2 separate regions of the Homo sapiens genome follow, and region 1 is linked to region 2. Evidence: fine-mapped expression QTL. A gene starts in region 2. The other region holds a variant in brackets. All regions are shown on one strand. Distances are between the middles of the regions.

Region 1 (8,326 bases), 230 kb before region 2:
AAAAACAGTATGGAGGCTCTTCCAAAAATATAAATTAGTATTACCATATACCCAACTATTCCTCTTCTGGAATTTCCTCCCATCCTGTAGGCTGTCTTTTCACTTTTTTGATAGTGTCTTTTGATTCGCAAAAGTCCTTATTTTGATAAAGTGCAATTTATTTATTTTGTATTTCATTGATTATTATTTTGGTGTTGTATCTAAGAACCCATTGCCAAATTTAAGGTCTTGAAGATTTACCCCAATATTTTCTTCTAAGACTTTTCCTGGGCTCAACTAATCCTTTTGCCTCAGCCTTCCGAGTACCTAGGGCTACAGGCGTACATCATCGCACGCAGCTGATTTATTTATTTATTGTAGAGATAAGGTCTTGCTATGTTGCCCAGGGTGTTCTCAAACTTCTGGCCTCAAGGGATCCTCCTGCCTCGGCCTCCCAAAGTGTTGGGATTGTAGGTGTAAGCCATTGTCCTTGGCCTATTTTCAGTTAATTTTTGTGTATGAGGTAGGGGTCTAACTTTTTTCTTTTTTATGTGAATACCCAGTTTTCCCAGCACGAACTGTTTAAGAAAAAACACATTTGTTTAAGACTATTCTCTCCCCACTGAACAGTCTTAGCACTTTTGTCAAAAACCAATTGACCTTAGATGGATGGGTTTATTTCTTGACTCTTGATTTTATTCCATCACTCTATGTCTATTCTTATACTAATGCCACAGTTTTGATTTGCATTCCCTGATAACTAATAATGTTCAGCTTTTTTTTTTTTCATATGTTAGCTGGTCATTTGTATATCTTCTTTGGAAAAATGTCTATTCCAATCCTTTGCCCATTTTTAAGTTGGGCTGTTAGTCTTTTTGCTAAGACTCTCACATCCAGAATATATAAAGAACACTTACACTCCACAACAAAAAGACTAACAACCCAGAATGAGATGCCACTTCACTCCTACTAGGATGACTATAATCAAAACAAAACAAATGTTGGTGAAGATGTAGAGAAATTGAAACCCTATGCTTGCTGGTGGCAATATAAAATGGTTCAGCTGCTGTGGAAAAGTTTGGTGGATTCTCAAACATTTAAACATAGAATTACCATATGACCCAGCAATTCCACTGTGAGGTATATACCCAAAAGAACTGAAAACATATTTAATGTTCACAGCAGCACTATCCACAATAATGAAATGGTGGAAACAACCCAAATGTCCATTAACTGATGAACAGATAGACAAATCGTGGTATATCCATACAACAGCTTATTCTGCCATAAAAAAAGAATGAAGTACCGATACATGCTACAAGTTGAATAAACCTTGAAAACATTATGCCAAGGGAAACAGAGACATAGGTCACATGTTTTATCATTCCATTTATATAAAATGTCCAGAATAAACAGGCAAATCCAAACAGACAGAAAGTAGATTAGTGGTTGCCAGAGGCTGGTGGAAGGGGAGTGGAAAGTGACCACTTACTTAATGGGTACAGGTTTCCTTTTGGGGTGATGAAAATGTTTTGGAAATATATGAGGTTATGGTTGTACAACACTGTGAATGTACTAAATGTGACTACGCTGTACATCTTAAATTGGTTAATTTTTTTTTTTTTTAAGAGACAGGGTCTCACTCTGTCACCTAGGCTCTGGAGTGCAGCAGCACAATCACAGTTCACTTTAACCTTGAACTCTTGGCCTCCAGTGATCCTTTCACTTCTACCTCCCAAAGTACTAGGATTATAGCCATGAGCCACTGTGCCTGGCTAGTTAAAGTGGTTAATTTTATGTTATGTGAATTTTACATCAGTAATAAAAAAGAAGCCGGAAGAAAACCAGACATCAAAGATGTTAGAAAAAGGGATATATTTACAAACCAAAAAGTCTCCAAATTCCCACTGGAAGGAGGTAGCAAGTATGAGCAGGTCTCTTTAGAAGCCCGTCCTCATTCCTATAGAAACCCCAAGTACTAGCCCATGGGGTCAGCCCTTGCCCTATAGCCCATCCTTGTCACAACCCAAGAAGCAATCCCTCCATTGGCCACACCCTCAGTCCTTTTGCCAGTCATCCTGTGCCCAGGCAGGCATTGGTGAAAAGTACTCAAAGCCTGGCCCTTTATAGCGTAGGGCATGTAGGAACATCACAAGGTCTTGGGGCAAGGGATCCTGTCGCACCAGCCGGCACTCTGCACAGAGTGGGTCTGTCTCTTGATTCATGACATCTGTTTCAACTGCCTTCTCTGATGCCAAGGCTATTGTGTCCAACTCCTGAGGGGCTGCCTCAGCTACTTCCTCCATCTTCTGGGCAGCTGCAGCCAACTCTTCCAGGTCGTCCTTGCCCAACTCTGAGGAGGGGGCCGTAGAGTCTGTGAGTCCTGGGGACAGGTCACCCTCACAGAGATCTAGCACATCCAGGCTCTGTTTGGCCTGGTGCTCTGCTACCAGGTCCCGTAGCAACTCCTCGTTTGTCTTGGGAATGTAGCCGCCCCGGCCTCGAGAAGGACCCCAGGCAACTGAGTTGTAGATGGGGTCGTTGAGAATGGGATGGCCCAAGAACTGAAGGTGGACTCGAATCTGGTGTGTGCGGCCTGTGAGTGGCCGGCACCGTACCACACTGGACTGGCCATTGTAGCTTAGCCTCTGGAACACTGTCTCACAGGGCTTGCCCCGGGGATCTACACGGCACACCCCTACTTTGTAAGACACCACTAAGATGGGTTCTTTACAGGTCACTTCCTCAGTGGGGAACTCCCCTTCCACCCGGCACACGTACTCCTTCTCCAGCTACATAGGAGGGAAGAGGGAGAAAGTCAGTACAAAGCCTAAATTCATGGAGTCCAAACTCTTTGTGGAGTGATAAGGACCAGTGTCAGAAAATTCAAACTCCAGCTCTACCATTCGCCAGTTTTGCGATCTTGGGTACATTACTTAACCTCTAAATCCTACTAACTCATCTAGAAAATGTGAAATTAGAAAAGCATTTACCAGCTGGGTGAGGTGGCTCACGCCTGTAATCCCAGCACTTTGGGAAGCTGAGGTGGGTGGATCACCTGAGGTCGAAAGTTCGAGACCAGCCTGACCAACATGAAGAAACCCCGTCTCTACTAAAAAATACAAAATTAGCCAGGCGTGGTGGCGCATGCCAGTCATCCCAGCTACCTGGGAGGCTGAGGCAGGATAATTGCTTGAACCCAGGAGGCGGAGGTTGCAGTGAGCCAGGATCACACCATTGCACTCCAGACTGGGCAACAAGAGCGAAACTCCATCTCAAAAAAAAAAAAAAAAAAAAAGAAAAGAAAAGAAAAGCATTTACCTCATTGGGCTGTGATAAGCATTCAGTAAGTTAGGCTCTAATGTGCTTGATACTAAGCCTGGTATATAGCATGCACTCAATAAATGTATTATGATTCAGATCCAGAATTACAAGTCTCAGGACAACAATCATTACCATTAAACTCCTCTACCCAAGACTTTTCCAACTACATCTAGAATCTTTTCACCAAGCAGGCTCTCCCCATAATCTTAAAAGCCTTGCTCAGCCTGTCAGCACTTTATTTTCTTATGTTAATTTATTTCTTTGAGACGGAGTCTTGTTCTATAGCTCAGGCTGGAACGCAGTGACATGCTCATGGCTCACTGCAGCCTCAACCTCCCATGGCCAAGTGATCCTCCTATCTCAGCCTCCCAAGTAGCTGGGACTACAGGCATGTGCCACCATGCCAGGGTAAGTTTTTTTTTTTTTTTTTGAGACAGAGTCTCACTCTGTCACCCAGGCTGGAGTGCGGTGGCGCGATTCGGCTCACTGCAAGCTCCACCTCTTGGGTTCACACCATTCTCCTGCCTCAGCCTCCCGAGTAGCTGGGACTATAGGTGCCCGCCACCACGCCCAGCTAATTTTTTGTATTTTTTTTTAGTAGAGACGGGGTTTCACCGTGTTAGCCAGGATGACCTCGATCTCCTGACCTCGTGATCTGCCCGCCTCGGCCTCCCAAAGTGTTGGGATTACAGGCGTGAGCCACTGCGCCTGGCCTTTTTTTTTTTTTTTTGTAGAGATAGGGTCTCCCTATTTTGCCCAGGCTGGTCTCTACCTCCTGGGCTCAAGCTATCCTCCCACCTCAGCCTCCCAAAATGCTGGGATTACAGGTGTGAGCCTGGCCTTGTCAGCATTTTAAAGCTTCAAAATAGCAAACTACTAAGAGAGGCAGTGTATGCCATCTCTAAAGATTTTTTTGGAAACATATGAGATATCCTGCATTTGGCACTTTAGGTGTTGACCTGCCTTAAGGTAGGAAGGTAGGAAGGATGGCCAGATAAATATGAAGGACCACTTCGGAACTCCATGATGCCCTTTTGACACAGAGCATTCGTGAGCCCAAGAAGTGGCCTGTAGGAGACAAAAGCCTGACTCACCTGCCGGTCCCGAACCTGCTCGTGAATTCTCTCAGAGACTGCAGCTGTCTTGGCAAACATAAGCACCCCTGAGGTAAGGCGGTCAAGCCGATGCAAGGGGTGTAGCTCCTTGAGTTGGTGCTCCTTGCCTAGGATGAAGATAACTGTGTTGTGTCGGAAGCGGCCACAGGGGTGAACGGGAATGGAGGAAGGCTTGTCTACAACCACCACATCTTCGTTCTCAGCTAGCAGGCGAATGGGCTCTGCTGTGACTGGTGGCTCATGCCTGTGCACTGTGTTCCGCAAGAAATCATTGTCCTGTCAAAGACATAGGTAATAAGTCAGCCTAGGGACCGCAGCCTGTAATCAGTCAACTTCATATCCAGCTTCCCCTGTTCCTCACTGACATGGAAAAATGGTGAAAGCACATCTTGGGCTGAAAAAGCAGTGTGCAGAGTGTGATCTCATTTTGTAAAAATACAGACAGACACAGGCAGATAGCTGGCACTGAAAAAGTACTGGAAGGACATATGCAAAAATGTTAACTGTGTTATCTCTGGGTGGTTAGATTATGAATGTTTTTTGGCTTTGCTAATTGTATTTTCTCTACAATAAAGGTATTTAAAAGGTAAAATTTTTTAGCCGGGCGCAGTGGCTCACGCCTCTAATCCCAGCACTTTGGGAGGCTGAGGTGGGTGGATCACGAGATCAAGACCATCCTGGCTAACATGGTCAAACTCTGTCTCTACTAAAAATACAAAAATTAGCAGGCGTGGTGGCACATGCCTGTAATCCCAGCTACTTGGGAGACTGAGGCAGGAGAATCGCTTGAACCTGGGAGGCGGAGGTTGCAGTGAGC[C/T]GAGATCGCGCCACTACACGCCAGCCTGGGCAACAGAGCAAGACTCTGTCTCAAAAAAAAAAAAAATAAATAATCAAGGTAAAATTTTTTTAATGGAGGAAAAAACCTCCATAAATCATCACTTATTACGATCTTGAACAAACAAAACTAAGGCTTAAGTCCAGGGATATGGGCTCTAGACCAGGATTTGCCACAGGCTCGCTACATGCTCTTGGGCAAGTCATTTATCTTTTCTGGGTCTCTGCTTCCTGTGGAATGTGAGGGTTAGACCAGATCTGTGCTTTAGAAATTGGGATAGGAGAGGGAATTCGTCAATGTATGATATATTGACGCAAATCGATTGATCAATGGAACAAGTTACTCCAAAACCATCCATTCCCCAAATGCTGTAATCGCCTTTTCTCCACTCACAACCATGGTAAACTAGTGTTACTGAGAGGTAAACAGTGTTACTTCTGACAGGGGTGTCTGGTACCTCATAGATGTGATGGAATTTTAAAGGAGTCAAAGCACTGGGCTAAACAATTCTAGTCTCTATCCCTGACATCTCATAACTCTATGTTAAATAGTTTAAGTAGTAGTTATAGGAACATAGGCTTTGGTAGTGGCACTGTTGATAGCCTTACCCCTGTGAGTTTCCTTAGTTTCCTCAGAGGTAAAATGGAGTGGCAATACCTACTTCACAAGGCTGTCATTAGAATTAGTGGACATACAATGTTTAACTTTGTGCCCAGCACACAGTAAAGAGACATAAATGATAGCCCCTATTATTACTATTTGCACAGAGATCTACAACGCAGGGTAAAGTGATCAGTGCCCTTGCCACAAGACGGTGTTTAAAGGAATTATGAAAATTCCAACTTCTGTCCCTTGGAAACAAGGAAGCTGCCTTGAGGAAGAGGATAAACAGGCTGAGTCCTGAAGCACAGACACCCTGGCCACTTGCGGAGGTGGGAAACGGGCTAAAATAGTGTTCCAAATGAAAGCGAGAACGCTTTAGAATTGCCATGATTTTAATCCAGTACCTATGCTTTACTAAGACTAAAAAACAAAACAAAACAAAACAAAACCCGGCCCCTTTTCCTCGCCCGCTTCTGGCCAGCCCCATCAGGACTCCACCTTGAGCACGATGTTGAGGTCCTGCACCGGCTTCTCGTTGAGTTGCAGGCGGCCCGCCCGGACCGCGGCCTCATAGTAGGCCAGGGGCTGAGCTCGGAACTCGGTACTGAAGACGTGCAGCAAGCTGTGGCCCACCCAGCGACCTTTGCAGTAGGTCCGGAAGTCAAAGTAATAGGGCCGCACCTTACGCAGGCCGCCCTCGAAGTAATAACTGGTTTCTGCAAAGTGCTCATCTCCGAAGCTCACCCCGGTCCGCCGCTTCTTCGGGGGCGGCACGACACGCTCCCTGGTTGCGCCCCGCCGCTTCTTATGCTTGCCCGGGCCTGGGGCTGCAGCCGAGGGATGCTCCCCGCCTACTGGGGCCGGCTCCACTTCCCGGCCAGCCGGCTTCGGGGGCCCGGGGGACAGCTCAACCTTCGCGTCGCCACCAGCGTCACCGTTTTGCTGATGCGAAGCCCTCAGCCCGCCCTCTGTCCCAACCTGGGTAGACACTGTTTCTGCCATTGGGCCCTTATCGCCACTCCAAGTCCTGGTAAAGCTAGGGCGCCTAAGGTCGTAGCGCCAATGTCCAAGAACCCTGAGCCATCCGCGGCGGTCCAGCCACATAACCACGCTGCCCCCACTCCACTCCCAGGGTCGCGATCTGAGGACGTCACTCGGCCCCAGCGAATCAGGGAGGCCCAGTCCCGAGGCGGGGTCTGCGATAAGTGAGCGAATGAGTGAGCTGCTCGAATTAAATTAGGTGAATTGAGTGAGCTTAGAGATGAGAGACTGTAAATGTCTCACCAAAAGTGACCTTACTCAGACGTCTTCCTATTAGGGAGATACGACGTTATTTATAAAGGAAACCCTTGGAATTGCTCCGTGTAAAGGCCATGACAGGAGTAGGTCGTGTAAATTCCGAGTAGTCCCTTGGGTCTGAAGAAACGCTTGAAAGGAGCTTTATTTAAGACAAAACAAAAACTAACAACCAGAATAAAGATTGCTAAACTCTGCGAATATACTAAAACCCACTGTATTCTATATTTTAAAAGGGTCAATATTATAGTATGTGACTTGTATCTCAGTAAGATTGTTATATATGTATTTAAAACACACACAAGCACCCCAGAAGCAATGTGTTCACACCTGTGTTTCCCCCTAACAGCATGAGAAGGATTAGTGATCCCCATTCGCCTCCCACATGCTTCCATCCTGAGATTAAAACTGCAAATAGATCAGAGGATATATGGCGAGGGTTCTTAAGTGCAAAATAAACCAACTCTGGCTAATTTCATCAGAGATAGAATTATGGAAAGTATATTAGTGCCTCATAGAATTCACAAGACAACTGGAGACTAGGCTCAGAAAAAGGGCCAAATCAAGGGAAACCAAGCCTTTTGAGAGCCTGGCTTCAGACATGTCAGGGAAGAAACCCAGTTGGGATGCAGTAGACACAAGAAACTATGTTGTGCCAAAGGACTCTTTTTCCTGCAGCCCTGCCACCCCTTGGAGACCCCTAAATCTCCCTGTGTCTCTGTGTCCCTCTTCCAAGGTTAAGAGTCCTGCAGGGGAGGACTTCCATCAGCCAAACCTCATTGCTCTGAGCCCTCACTTCCAGGGTGCCTGGAGATGGAAGAATTTAACCCTCTTTTTTTTTTTTTTTTTTTTTTTTTTTGAGACGGAGTCTTGCTCTGTCGCCCAGGCTGGAGTGCAGTGGAGCGATTTCACCTCACTGCAACCTCCGCCTCCTGAGTTCAAGCCATTCTTCTGCCTCAGCCTCCTGAGTGGCTGGGACTACAGGCACGCACCACCACGCCTGGCTAATTTTTATATTATGAGTGCTGGGATTACAGGCGTAAGCCACCGCGCCCGGCCAAGAATCTAACCCTCTTTGGTATCCAGAGTGGGATTCTTCCAAATAAGGAGGCATTTCAATGTTAGTTTGCCAAAAAAAAAAAAAAAAAAAAGACAGTCTAATTCTTATCCTAGG
Region 2 (8,326 bases):
TATTTTATTTCCTCTCCAGATGATTCTGTGAAGCAGGTACACCTCATTTTATAGATGAGGGCCAGAGAGAGAAGGGACACAGCCAGTAAGGGGTGAAGTTCATTTGGAATCCACCCACCCCCCATCCCATCTTCTGACAAAGCCGAGGGGAAGGGCAGGGGCCGGCTTGCTTATGTTTCATTGATCCAGCTTCAGGGGCAGCATTCCGGAAACAGAATGAGGTCTGAGATGTGCGGCCCTCGTGGGTGGAGCCTCTGCCAGGGCTGTGATCCCAGGGTTGCGGTGGCTCCACGTGTGGTTCGGAGGGTCTTTCCTCCCCTGCAGCCCCTTCCCTCTTTCTCCTCAGTGAGAATCCCAACTTGCAGCCATCTCGTTCTCAGGGCTGGTCCCAGGTCTGTGCTCTGAGGACCACGAATAGGGTCCAGATACGTTCCCTTCTGGACCTCAGGGGGTACCCCCTGAGCCAGCGGGTGGCCTGGGAGGGTGGGGGACCACAGGGAAGAGCCTGTGCCCGAGGTGCTGGGACACCCGGCCCAACCCCGGGTGGAGAGAGGGAGGGCACAGAGGGAAGGATCAGCAGAACGGCATTGGCGGGGCAGCCGGTGAAGGCGCCCTGGGCAGGAGGCAGCTCCCGGGTGTGTGGCCTCAGCGGCATCACAGACAGGCTGTGCCACCTGGGCAGAGGGCGCCACCTCTTTGGGCTTCAGCTTCCTCATCAATAAAATAAGTCTTCTACAACTAGATGGCTTCTCTAGTCTGATGGAGTTGGGAGGTGGAGGTTACAGGGACTTGGGGGAGGCCCTGTGGAACAACAGAGAAAGGGAACCGCCTCCCGCACCCAAAAACAGGCTGTTGTCGCTCTGCTGCCCCTTAGTGGCGACACAGAGAAACAGACACCCAGTCTCATGGGGATGGCAAGCTGGTCCTTCTCCATCTCCCCTGCTTCCTGTGGGCTTCTCCCCGGGGTGGGGTGGGGCTACTCTTAGGGCACCTTTACCACCCACCGGCTCCCTCAGGGCTGCGTACATTCTAGGTGGACAGAAAGGCAGTCCCAGCCTATGCATAGGATACCCACAGCTATGCACAGGATGGCAAGCACAATTCACGCATGTCTTCATTCTGGAAGTGCTGATGGAGGTTCTTTAGTATGCAGGGGCACCGTGCCAGACACTGGGGATCCAGAGGCACTTGGCAGGTCATTCCTGCCCTCAGAGAGCCTCTGTCCAATGGAGAGCAGACAGGCCAACCACAGACTCTGGGGAAAGTGGGAGACTGTGGGGGCTGCTCAGAGGTGTGACGTCATGTGTGAATAACACTGGGAAACACACAGTCAGCAGCTGCTGGTACCCCCCGTATGATGGTTGGTTTGTCTTGGGCACATACCCCTCTAGCCTGACAGACCAGAAGGCCTTTGCCCTAGGTGAGGGGAGTGTGTTCCTGCAGGCCCTTCCAGAAGAGCTGTGTGGCCATCCCACAGGCGATAAGCCTGTGCCCATGCCTTTACCCCCCTGCTACTCTCTTGCCCCCACCTTGTCTGGGAATGGGGGAGGGGGTACACAGCCTTGCCTTATCCCTGTAGCTTCCTTACCCCATCTACACATCTCCTCCCCAGACCTGGTCCGGGCCTGAGTTCTGAAGAGGCTGGAGAGCATTAGGTCTCCCTCCCCAGCAAGTGCTCTGCGGGCCTCCCAGCTCCAACACAGTGCGGGGCAGGCGAAGGGAAGTTTGAGGCTTCTGGAGGCTTCTGAAGCCTCCTGAGGCTGGCGTGGAACTCAGTCCACTGTATGGGGCAGGATGCAGAGCGTCTGGGAGAAGGAGAGAGAGTGTGTGCGTGTATGTGTGTGAGAGAGGCCCAGGGCACAAAGCCTGGGTGCGTCATGGTTGCTGGGAGAGTTTGACGAGTCTGACTCAGTGGGGACATCCGGCAGGAAAGGAAGGGAGAGCGCAGTGGCATTTGCAAGCAAGATGGGAACTCTGGGGTGGTGGAGATGGGGTGTGGGGCCAGGGGTGCTGTGCAAAGGCCTGGACAGGAAGAGGGCTAAGCCTGGCGGAGCTGGGGGAGGGAGTGGGGAGGAAAGGGCAGTTCTGGAGGGGTGGAGGTTGGACCTCTGGCTGCCTGGGTGGGTCTGGGAGGAGAAAGAAGGCAGCGGGGGTTTCTGCTCTGGAGACAGAGGGGACGAGTTGTGGCATTTGGGAAACTGGCCTGGTCAATCAGGGATGTGGGGAATGCAGGGGCTTCTGATTCTCACCTGAGGGCCTGGAGCTCAGGGCCTTGTAGCTGAGGAAACAGACTCCACGAATTCCTAGTCCAGAAAGACCACCCTCCTCTCAGCACCCCCAAGCCTTGAGTCCCAGAGGCTCTAGGAGCCTGGGCAGGGAGACCAGTCTCAGCTGTATGAGGAAGATATGGGGGAGGAGCTTTCCTGAGAAGGGCTGATTCCTTTGCCAGGTTCAGAGAGGCTGAAAAAGCCAGTCTTGGAGAGCAAGGCCAGGAAGGGCCCAAACTTAGGGCCCGAGGGAGGAAGGCTGTTGACCAGCTCTGAACTGCCATGGCAAGGGCCCTGGAGGAATGCCTGGCTCACCATACCAAAGGGCTAGAGACCCAAACAACAGAGCCTCTTGGAAGCGGCTGTGCTTTAAAACATAGTCATGTGTCTGCTAATGACAGGGCTATGTTCTGAGAAATACGTTGTTAGGTGGTTTTGTCATTGTGTGAACACCACAGAGAGCACTTACACAAACCTAGATGGTACAGCCTACTACACACCCAGGCTATATGGTATAGCTATTGCTCCTAGGCTACAAACCTGTACAGCAGGTTACTGTACTGCATACTGTAGGCAGCTGTAACACAGTGCTAAGTGTTTACATATCTAAACTTAGAAAAGATATAGTAAAAATATGGTGTACAAGATTTAAAATGGCACACCTGTATAGGGCACTTACCATGAATGAAGCCTGCAGGACTGGAGGTTGCTCTGGTGAGTCACTGAGTGAGTGATGAGTGAATCTGAAGGCCTAGGACATTACCGTCTGCTACTATAGATTTTATAAACACTGTACACTTACGTTAGACTAAATTTATACGAATGATTTTTTGGTCAGGCATGGTGGCTCATGCCTGTCATCCTAGTACTTTGGGAGGCCAAGGCAGGAGGATCACTTGAGCCTAGGTGTTCAAGACCAGCCTGTGCAACATAGCAAGACGTTCTCTCTACAAAAAATTTTAAAACTACCTGGACATGGTGGCATGCGCCTGTTGTCCAAGCTACTCAGGAGGCTGAGGCAGGGGGATCCCTTGAGCCCAGGAGGTTGAGGCTGCAGTGAGCCATGATCATGTCACTGACCTCTGGCTTGGGTGACAGAGTGAGACTGTCTCAAAAAATGAAAAATTAAAAAATATATATTTTTGTTTCTTCAGTAATAAATTAACCTTAGCTTACTGTAACCTTTTTACTTTATAAACTTTTTAATTTAAAAAAACTTTTTGACTCTCTTGGTAATAACCCTTAGCTTAAAACACAAACAAAACACATTGTACAGCTGTACAAAAATATTTTCTCTTTATATCCTTATTCTATAAGTTTTTTTGCTATTTTGAAACTTTTTCTTTTTTTTAACTTTTTAAACTTTTTTCTCAAAATCTAACACACACACATTAGCCTAGGCCTACACAGAGTCAGAATCATCAACATCACTGTCTTCCATTCCACATATTGACCCACTGGAAGGTCTTCAGGGGCATTAACAGGCCTGCAGCTGTCATCTCCTATGCTAACAATGCCTTCTGGATTTCCTCCTGAAGGACCTGCCCGAGGCTGTTTTACAGTTCACTTTTTTTTGTTGTTGTTGTAAGTAGAAGAAATACACTCTAAAATAATGATAAAAAGTATAGTATAGTAAATACATAAGCCAGTAACATAATTGTTAATTATCATTATCAGGTATTCTGTACTGTGCACACTTGTATGTGCCATACTTTTGTGCGGCTGTCATGCCGTAGGTCTGTTTACACAAGCGTCACCATAAGCACATAAGTAGTGCCCTGTGCTACCATGTTATAATGGCTACAATGTCACTAAGCCATAGGAATTTGTAGCTCCATTATAATCTTATGGGACCACCATCATATATGTGGTCCATTGTTGAGTGAAACGTCATTATATGGTGCATGACTGCACAGAGAAGACAATGTCCAACCTAAAAGAATGAATGACTATTGTTGTCATTTTAGGGATGTGGTAGTACTTGGTAGTCTAGGGGAGGTGAGCTTCTTGATCCCTTTGAATTACTTAAACCAAGGCTGATGAGGAGAAGGAGCAGGAGAGGGCAGGCGCATCTGTGTGCTGTAGGCCTTTTTCTACTCATGGGAGGCACAGAGGCCTACGCTGGCTGCCCATCTTGTCTGCAGGCAGGCCCAGGCTGGGGTCCTGCTGGGGCCTAGGCAGCCAGGCCTCCTGTGTAGGCTTGACCCACCAGGGAGAAGTCCCTACCAGTCTGTCTGGGGACGCTGGGGTGGGGCAGGGAGAGGTGCTAGGCAGGACCAGCCAGCTGCCAGTGCCCTGGTCCTCGCCCTCTGAGAGTGGAAGGGTGGGGGTGGCGGCCCGACGTTCCTGGCTGGGAGCCCAGAGGAGTCTTTTGTAATCACAACATGATCTCGTGTGCTGAGCAGCGAAGCCGGCAGGGAGAGGCCGGCAGAGGCCCGGCTCCGGTGGCTCCAGCTTTCCTCCCACTCTGGCTCCCCAGGGGCTGCTCTGGAATTCTCTCGGTGCCCGCCGTTGCCATGCACTCGGCTGTGAGTGGCAGTCTGCCTTTGGCAGGGGGCTTCTTGGGACTGGGAGGGGGCTGGGATACCAGGCAGCCACCCTCTGGGGGCAGCTGGGGACAGCTGGGGCTGGGAGGAAGAAGGCTGTGACTAGGGTCACAACAGAGAACCTGCATCCAGACAGAGAGGAACCTGGAATCTTGATGCAGAGACATGGCTTGCCCAGGGTGACTCCTGGGCTGGGGCCGCCAGGGGAGCTGGCTCTCTCCGCCCCGACTACCAGCAGCTTTCGGCCTGGAGAGGCTGGGCCCCTGGGAGCGGCTCTTTCCTCCAGGCTGGGCACAGGCCTAGGTGCGGGGTCCAGGGCCTGAGAGCCCAGGACGGAGCCAGGGCCTCTCCTTTTTCTCTGGTTGTGGATCTGGGAGCCAAACAGCTCCCCCCTCGACCTCCCGAATCCCCTGGCAGCTTCCCAGTCACGGCAGGTTCCGCTGCCAGAGCCATTTATAACTCCCATTCCAGGCTCTGCTCGGCAGTGAAGCTCCCTGGAGAGCTGGGGGAGGGGCACCCCACTGCTGGGAGCTGTGGCTTGGGGTATGAGGCCCTGACCTGAGCCCCCTGAGGAGGCAGGGACAGGCAGACGGGCCTAGCTGGAATGGGGGCTTGGGGCCTTATTTGGGCCATCTCCCTAAGCAATCCCCTTCCTTCCTGGGTGACCTTAGCTGTGGGTCTGGGATCTCTTCCTTGGGTGGTGAAAATGTGAAAGCTGGGGACTGGTGAGAGGGGGACCCGGAAGTCAGGAGCTTGGGTTCCCTGCCTCTGCAGGGAACTCCCAGAGCCGAGTCCCCCATGAGCAGGCAGGAGAAGGACGCAGAGCTGGATCGGAGGATAGTTGCCCTGCGCAAGAAGAACCAGGCCTTGCTCCGCAGGTACCAGGTGAGTGGGCTGCCACAGGGCCAGGAGAAACCACTTGGCTGCCGCTCCCTGTGCCCCACACGTGGTGGTCTCCCTGCAGGCTCAGCAATGCGCCTCTGGGGCTGGGGCCAGGGGTAGGGTGGGCATGGTCCCTCTTAGAGGCTTGGTGAGGGTCCTGGGGATGTGTGATGTGGCGCCTCTGCCCCCTGGTGTCCCACTGGTGTCTCTCTGTGTAGGCCTATCAGCATCTATGTCTCTGTGCACCTGGGGGGCCATGGCGTGTGCTGACCCCCAGCCCTCCCACAGGAGATCCAGGAGGACCGTCGGCAGGCAGAGCAGGGGGGGATGGCTGTGACCACACCAGCACTCCTCCAGCCTGATGGCCTCACCGTTACCATCAGCCAGGTTCCCGGTGTAAGCCTCACCCTGGGAGACAGGGCTCGTAGCAAGGAGGTGGAGGCCCAGACCATGTCGGGGAAAGACAGCTGCCTCTGTTCCCCTCTCCTACTAACTATTCTGGGGTGCACCTGCCAGCTCCCAACCTCCTGCAGTCGGACCACTGCTGTCCCCACCAAAGAGCCACAGCTGAAAGCCCCCCTACCCCCAGTAGATGCATCTTCATACCCTTTTCCAGTCCACAGCCCTGCGCCTATGCCACAAAGCACAGGCCACTCCTAAACCTCAAGCCCCAGGGGCTAAAACCCTGCAGGAAGTGGGGGACAGAGAAGTTGGGGCTGAATGCCAGGAGCAGTGTCTGAGGGACAGAGACCCATTGTTTGAGTGCTCTGGGTTTCCCAGCTCAGAGATGACGGGCCACTGTGGCATCTTGGGCCGCTGGGTGGCCCTGGGCCCTGGATAACCTCATGCCATTGGCATGTGAACACCCTGTGGGAGTCAGCTCTTCTGTGGGGAATGCAGGGAGGGCTGGGGTTGGAACCCAGGCCTGGGGAACCACCGAGAGGACCCAGCACCCAGGTCCTGCCCAGCACTGCCCATGTGGCCTGAGGGTCTTTGTTCTGCAGGAAAAGCGGGTGGTTAGCAGGAACTGGGCAAGGGGTACCTGTGGACCCAGAGTGACCAACGAGATGCTTGAGGATGAGGATGCTGAGGACCACGGGGGTACTTTCTGCTTAGGGGAGCTGGTGGAGCTGGCTGTGACCATGGAGAACAAAGCAGAGGTGAGCAGGGTGGTGGGGAGTGCAGGCATCGGCAGGCAGCCTCTTCCTCCCTGGCTCTGCTGCACTGCCCATCTTCATCCTCCCCAGGGCAAACGGATTGTAAGTGAAAAGCCTACCAGAGCAAGGAACCAAGGCATAGAGGGGTCACCTGGAGGGCGTGTGACCCGAAGCCCCCCCACGCAGGTGGCCATCAGCTCAGATTCTGCACGGAAGGTGTGTCTTCAAGAGGGGATGGGGACATGGATCTGAAGGTCCTCACTTGGGGGAGGCAGAGAAGCTGAGTCAGATATGTCCCTCATTTGCGGGGACGTGGCCAAGGGAGCACATGCAGGAGTTCCTGCTCCTCCTCCCTTTCTCTGGCCAGTCTCTACTTTGGGTGGGCCTTGAAGTGGGAGACAGTTTAAGCCAAAGATGTGATCCAGCCCCCTCCCCTATTTAGCCCTGCTGATGGTGGCATGGGAGTTGGGGAGGGGGCAGGAGGGTGGAGTTGACTGGCCAAGTGCCAGGTGTGACCTCTAGGTGGCAGCAGCCCCTAGTCCTTGCCCTTGCTCACAGCTTCCAGGGCCCCTCCCACTCCGGCCCGTCTGCATACCCCTGCAACACCCCTGTGGGTTGGTGCTACGGAGATCCTCCCCATTTTACACGAGGAAATGAGACACAGAGAGGTTAAATTACTTATGTAAAACACACAGCTAACAAGTGGATGGAAACCATTTCCACGGGAGAGCTGGAACAGGCCTAATTTTTAGCTGGAGATGTGGAAACCTTGAGAGAGGAAGCGCCTGGAGTCTCCAAACCCCACCCCAAGCCTCTTCCTGCTTCTCCCCCTCACTCTGAGTGTCTTCTCCCTACAGGGTTCTTGGGAGCCCTGGAGCCGGCCGGTGGGGGAGCCCCCGGAGGCGGGCTGGGACTATGCCCAGTGGAAGCAGGAGCGGGAGCAGATCGACCTAGCCCGCCTCGCCCGGCACAGAGACGCACAGGGTGACTGGCGCCGCCCGTGGGACCTGGACAAGGCCAAGTCCACGTGGGTGGCTGGGTTGGGCAGGTTGCCTGTGGTGCGGGATGGAGCTGGCTTCGGGCACTGCTGGGAGGGCTGCAGGGACCCTCCTCGGGGTTGAGAGGACCTTGCTGGGCATTCTGGTCGAGCCCAGGGTTCAAGGCTCTGGGTCTCCCATCTTTCTTGGGCCCACCATCTCCCTGCTGCCTTCAATTCTGGGCCTGGGCTTCGGGGAGGGGGGTGTCAGGGTGGGGCCCGCGGCAGCTTCTGTGCACCAGCAACCTGACTCCCTCTGTCTACACAGGCTACAGGACTGCAGCCAGCTGAGGGGAGAAGGCCCGGCCAGGGCAGGCAGCAGAAGGGGTGAGCCCACACCTACCTCATCCCTCCCCTCCTTGGCTTTGTTCATCTTTCACCCCCTTGTCCTCTCTTTTCTCTGTCTCTTAGTCTCTTATTTTCAGAGCTGAAAGGAAG

Alleles and levels. Positions count from the first base shown, and alleles are read on the strand shown. Sizes are in standard deviations (SD) of each study's normalised expression.
For the expression in liver of the gene that starts at base 4,664 in region 2, allele C in region 1 goes with a higher level than allele T (large effect, 1.0 SD a copy in GTEx).

What was found.
Region 1: its variant is fine-mapped to the expression of CCDC9B in liver (GTEx, PIP 0.93).

What each region holds. Positions count from the first base shown.
Region 1 is chr15:40,567,972-40,576,297 of GRCh38, reverse strand. RPUSD2 (RNA pseudouridine synthase domain containing 2) reads right to left here and starts at 6,999. Exons shown (of 3, transcript NM_152260.3): 1 at 6,355-6,999; 2 at 4,398-4,694; 3 at 1,349-2,771. The coding sequence starts at 6,960. The coding sequence ends at 2,037. RefSeq lists enhancers at 6,368-6,417, 6,167-6,666, 6,728-7,057. The variant C/T (reference allele first, on the strand shown) is at 5,236.
Region 2 is chr15:40,337,277-40,345,602 of GRCh38, reverse strand. It overlaps CCDC9B (coiled-coil domain containing 9B), which reads left to right and starts at 4,664. Exons shown (of 11, transcript NM_207380.3): 1 at 4,664-4,795; 2 at 5,588-5,698; 3 at 5,984-6,091; 4 at 6,700-6,855; 5 at 6,943-7,068; 6 at 7,710-7,879; 7 at 8,157-8,215. The coding sequence starts at 4,784. RefSeq lists enhancers at 1-542, 543-1,140, 1,324-1,823, 4,768-5,571 and silencers at 754-843, 864-973.